2 separate regions of the Homo sapiens genome follow, and region 1 is linked to region 2. Evidence: fine-mapped expression QTL. A gene starts in region 2. The other region holds a variant in brackets. All regions are shown on one strand. Distances are between the middles of the regions. Region 1 has its middle 32 kb from the start of KCTD15. Region 2 holds the start of KCTD15 (potassium channel tetramerization domain containing 15).

Region 1 (2,900 bases), 32 kb before region 2:
GTTCATCAAAAAATAGTATTGGGCTGGGTGCAGTGGCTCACGCCTGTAGTCTTAGCACTTTAGGAGGCCAAGGCAGGAGGCTTGCTTGAGCCCAGGAGTTTGAGACCAGCATGGGTGACAGAGCGAGACTCCATCTCAAAAAAAGAAAAAAAAAAGAAGTTTTGCTTCCTCCAATATTGATAATAAAAAATCACAATTTTGGATCAATCACTCTAGAGGAAATGCAAAATTGCTTTTCTATTCTCTCTATAAAAACATATATTATTGTTGCTATTTGAAGAAGTGATCAGGGTAGACAGCTAAATTATGTAGGAAGCGTGTTACATCAGCCAGTTGATTAATAATATAGGAATGAAATACTAATATGGTATTGTTCTGAATTTTGTGATGTTCATAGTATTTTATTATTTTATTTTTTAGAGCTAGAGTCCTGCTGTGTCACCTAGGCTAGAGTGCAGTGGCATGATCAACAATTCACTGCAGCCTTGACCTTCTGGGCTCAAGGGATCTTCCCTACTTGGCCTCCAGAATAGCTGGGACTACAGGCATGCACCACCATTTCTAGCTAAATTTTGCTACGTTGCCCAGGCTGGTCTTGAACTCCTGGGCTCAACAATCCTCCTGCCTTGGCCTCCCAAAGTGCTGGGATTACAGGCATGAGCCACCATGCCTGGCCATTTTGTGGTATTTTAAATTTGTATTATGTTGTGACTTTTCTCATTCTAAATAAATACTTTTGTTCATGGTAAAACCAAACAAAACAGTTTTGTACTGTCCTTGCAAATTTTTTTGGTAAATTTGTGATTGTTTCAAAATACACCAAAATTAATTAAAAATATTTTATCAGATAATTTTCCATCAAGTGTGGTCCATTCTTGCTTCCATTTCTCTCCTGTTCTCTCTTTCCTCCCACCCTGCGGTCACTCCTTCTCCAAACCCTCTGCTGCACCCTTCTTCCCTCTCCCAGCTTCCAAACACCGAGTGCCCGGGGCTCATCCTGGAAACCTCTTCTTTTTTTTTTTTTTTAATGTGTGTGTGTGTGTGTGTGTGTGTGTGTGTGTTTTGAGATGGAGTCTTGCTGTGCTGCTCAGGCTGGAGTGCACTGGTACGATCTCGGCTCACTGCAGCCTCCGCCTCCTAGGTTCAAGAGATTCTCCTGCCTCAGCCTCTTACGTAGCTGGGATTACAGGTGCCCGCCACCATGGCAAGCTAATTTTTGCATTTTTAGTAGAGACAGGGTTTCACCATGTTGGTCAGGCTGGTCTCGAACTCCTGACCTCAAGACATCTGCCCGCCTCATCCTCCCAAAGTGCTGGGATTATAGGCGTGAGCCACCGCGCCCAGCCAGTCTCTTCTCTTTTGACACTTACTGCCTTGGAGACCTTATCCAGTCTTGGCTTTGAATGCTGTCTAACTTGTGAGGACCCTCCAACGTACACCTGCAGCCTGGACTCCCTCCTGAGTTCCCAAGTACCTGCCTGTCTCCCAGCCCAGCTTTGTCAGTCCTGTGCTTAACAGGCATCTCAACAGCCTGCCCCATCTGCCCAACACCATCAATCTTCTCATCCCAGCAAAAGGCAACTCCATCCTTCCTTTGCTCAGGCCAACCCCCTTGTAGCCACCCTAGACACCTCACTGCCTCCCACATTTCACATCTAAGCAGGCATCAAGTTATGTTGGCTCCTCCTTCCAAGTGTACCCAGGATGGAACTGCCTCTCCCTACTCCCACGTCTCTCACCCTGCTCCAGGCCACCTTCAGCTCGCTCTGAAGGA[T/A]CATGGTCGCATCCAACTGGTTTCCCTGCTCCTCCCCAGCCCCCTTCAGTCTATTTCCCTCCTCTGCTCACCACTGGGCAGTGGCCACTGCTCTCAAGCTCAGGAAAAGCCCAAGTCCTGGCCTGGCGCAGTGGCTCACGCCTGTAATCCCAGCGCTTTGGGAGGCCAGGAGTTCCAGACCATCCTGGCTAACACGGTGAAACTCCATCTCTACTAAAAATACAAGTAATTAGCCAGGCATGCTGGCATGTGCCTGTAGTCCCAGCTACTGGGGAGGCTGAGGCAGGAGAATCAGTTGAACCCGGGAGGCAGAGGTTGCAGTGAGCCGAGATCATGCCACTGCACTCCAGCCTGGGAGACAGAGCGAGACTCCGTCTCAAAATAAAAATAAAAATAGAAGCCCAAGTCCCAATCACGGTTCATGGCAGTGTTTTAGATTGGGATGCTCCAGAAGCTGATGCCGAGACAAGACCTTGAACGCAGCATTCACTGGGAGGTGATTCCTGGTATATAGGAAGAGAGAGAGGGAAGTAAGACAGGGCAAGGAAGGAAGCCAAGAGAGGGAAGGCTAGTAAGGGAGCTACTTGTCTGGGCACGGCAGCTCATGCCTGTAATCCCAGCGCTTTGGGAGGCTGAAGTGGGAGGACCACTTGAGGCCAGGAGTTTGAGACCAGCCTGGGCAACATAGAAAGGCACCTCCACCTCTGCAAAAATAAAAATTGGCCAGGCACAATGGCTCATGCCTGTAATCCCAGCACTTTGGGAGGCAGAGGCTGACAGATCACTTGAGGTCAGGAGTTTGAGATGAGCCTGGTCAATGAGTAGAGATGGCAAAACTCCATCTCTACTAAAAATACAAAAATTAGCCGGGTGTGGTGGTGCACATCTGTAATCCCAGCTACTTGAGAAGCTGAGACACGAGAATCGTTTGAACCCGGGAGGTGGAGGTTGCAGTGAGCTGAGATCGTGCCACTGTATTCTAGCCTGGGCAACAGAGCAAGACTAGGTCTCAATAAATAAATAAATAAATAAATAAATAAATAAATAAATAAATAAATATAAAAAATTACCCAGGCATTGTGGCATGTGCCTGCAGTTCTAGCTGCTAGGGAAGCTGAGGTGGGAG
Region 2 (2,900 bases):
GTTATTTTAACCATAAAAGGTAAACAGAAGGCGCCTCTCGAGCTCCCCTCGGCTCCGCACTCAGGGCGCTGGCCCGGGGCGAAAGTCCTGGGGGCCTGCACAATTGTCCCAGGGGTGGCCCCGGAGAGGCAGGCGGGCCACCTGGTGCGCGCCAGCCTCCCCACCCCCCCCCTCCCGCCTCCGCCGCGGAGCCAGCCGGCCGGTGTGAACTTAGGGGCGACGGGAGAGGGCTTGGGCCAAGGCTGGAGGCGCCGCGGGGCGGGGTGGCCGCGGCACCCGAAGCGCGGGGCTGGGCTGGGAGGGGTTGCCGCGGAGGCGGGGCGGGGACAAAGTTAAATCAAGAGGCAGACACTTGGAGACCACAGATGGGAAGCTCGCCTAATTAAGGACGTAAAAGCGCTTTTGTTCTCAAAGTTTATTGTTGCCGGGATTAAAAAAAAATTAATTGAAACTAATGCTGTTATTCACTCGTGCAGTTAAATTCCTTCATGCACATTTGAGATACGGAGCGAAAACTTGAAGCTTATCTTTCTGCAGTCGCGGGTGGGGGCCGCCGGAAGACAGAAAGGCGCTGCAGAGGCGGGGGTCCGCCCCCGGGTGTGTTTGCGAGTGTGTGCCGGGTGCGCGCGTCCAGGTCAGGGGGTGCGGGCGGGCAGCGGGGAACCGGATCTGCAGGCGGCGATCCCTCCCATCGCGGCCCCTCTCCCAGCCCCAAACCCTGCGCGCCCGGGACCACCACCAGCGCGACAGCCCCTCCTGCCAGGTTTCGGACTCGTGGGGTGGGCGTCAGAGGACGCACATCTGTCCCACTGGAGACTTTCTCTGATTTTGGGCGCCAAGCCGGGACTTGTGCATCCCGAAGCCCCAGTTGCGTGAGCCCGTTTCTGACCCCGGAAACTCGCCAGCTCTGCAGGGCGCTCGGCCCAGAACAGGGGCCAGAGTGCGGGGACCTCCACAAGCGCGCGCGCGCGCGCGCGCACACACACACACACACACACACACACACACACACACCGCGCGGCAGGAAGCTCCGAGACCGCCCGCGTGGGGAGGGTCCACCCGCGGCCAGGACCAGCCCACGTGGGCAACCCCACTCTTGCACCAGGCCTTTGTGCTGGGCACCCCCGCGCCGCCAGCCCCCGCCGCCCAGCAGAGGGACAAAGCGGCCGCCCCCGCCCAGGTCCAGACCCTGGCCGGGCGACTTTCTCGGTATCGCAGCCACTTCGGGGCAGGGTTGCGCGGCTCTGAGCGGTGGCCGCCCGCGCTGAGCTTACCTCGGAGCCGGCAGATCGGGCTCGGGCGCAGCCCCCGCCCCACGCAGCTGCCGGTCTCGGGCGCCGGGCGCAGCTTCGCCGCCTATGCTCGCTGCGCGGGTCGCTCCGGTCTCGTCCTGGAGTTACTTTCTCTCTCGCCCCCAACCCTCCCCCCACCCACCCCTCCCGCCCCGGCCCCCGCTTCACGCGGCCCCTCGCGGCGCGGCGCGCCGGGGCCTCCCCTCCCCACCCTCCCCTCGCCTCCTCCCCTCTTCGCGGCCGCCGCCTCCGCCGCCGCCGCCTCCTCCTCGCGCCGCTCTCCGGCTGCCCTCCCGCCGCTCCCACCTCCTCTCCTCCCTCCTCTCTCTCCGGCGGCCTCCCTCGATTGCTGGAGAGAAAACCAGCCCCCCACTCCAGCCCCTAGCCAGCGCCTCGCCGCGGCCCAGCCCGGACGTAAAGGGCAGCGATCCGGCCCCAAATTACCCAGCGCGAACGGGCGCGCGCGGCGACTCCTGGCTCGGGGCTCGGCTGCGCCGCGGGGCAGAGGATTAGAGTCGCAATTAGCTCCGCGCGCCCGCGCCTGGCGACAAAAACGCGCCGTTTCCCCTCCTTTCGCCGGGCGATCCCCACCCGCCTCTCCCGAAGCCCGCGCCTTCCCGCCGGGGCCGCGGCCAGGACCCTCCCGGGAGCGGTGCGCCCAGGCCCCAGCGCCCTCCGCGGCCCAGCCCCCCGCCCCCCGCCGGCCGGCCACGCGGCGCCCGGGCCTCCTCCGGGCTCGGGGAGGGGGCGGGGGAGAGGCTGATTTTAATCATTGTCATTTCATCTGATGTAATATTTCCCCGGGCGCTTTCAGCTGGGCATAAATTTTCGGCTCCCAAATAAGTAACACAGGGCACGTTTCTCACATTTCTTGACTCCTCGGTTACAAAGAGGAGAGCAGCCGCCGCCGCGGCGCCCGGGGCTGGGGGCGGGACTTGGGAAGAAACTGGGCTGCCAGTCGGTCGGGGCTGGAGCGGAGCCGGGGGCCAGGCCGCCCCTCCCCCGCTCCCTGGCCGCCCTCCCAGGGTCTCTGCCCCGCTGCCCCTCTCCCGTGACGTCTGCGGACACGCGGTCGGCCGCCGCGGGGGAGGGACGCGCTGGGGCACCGGGCCGACCGCTCGCGGCTAGACGCGCCATTTCCTTTACGCGCGCGGCGCGATGGAGACGGCGGCAGCCAAGACTCCCCGCGGCCGAGGTCCGCGCCCCGGACGCCCCTCCCCAGTCTCCGCTTCGGCCGCCCCTTCCTCCTTTTCTCCCACTCCCACTCCTCCTCCCCTTCCTCTTCCTCCTGTTTCCTTTGCGCCCCGCCCGTGCCTCCTCCTCCTCCTCGGCGACCATTTCCCGGCTCCTAGGAAACGGAGCGCGCGACTGGCCGGCACTGCGCCCCCGCCTGGCTCCAGGGACGCCCGGGCCGGAGACCGGCTGGGACCGCGGGGCGGGTGCGCACGGGCCGGAACGGCGCCTGGGTCCCGACCGCCGGCTCCGGCCGGGCCTGGACGCCCCCTAGCGGCCGCACTCCCGGGGTGGGGGGCGCTCGGGGTCGGCCTGGAGCTGGGGTGAGGGGGACTCGGGGTGCCAGTGGGAGGAAGGTGAAGTGGGGGGGGCTTT

Evidence for each region. PIP is the estimated chance that this variant, and not a neighbour inherited with it, causes the effect.
Region 1: its variant is the best candidate, but not a certain one, in a credible set for the expression of KCTD15 in blood mononuclear cells (TOPMed, PIP 0.52).

The regions. Positions count from the first base shown.
Region 1 is chr19:33,827,431-33,830,330 of GRCh38, reverse strand. No RefSeq gene overlaps it. Among named protein-coding and RNA genes, the nearest start is that of KCTD15, 32 kb to the right of the region's middle. The variant T/A (reference allele first, on the strand shown) is at 1,775.
Region 2 is chr19:33,795,362-33,798,261 of GRCh38, reverse strand. It overlaps KCTD15 (potassium channel tetramerization domain containing 15), which reads right to left and starts at 1,392. Exons shown (of 7, transcript NM_001129994.2): 1 at 1,275-1,392. RefSeq lists a silencer at 2,694-2,813.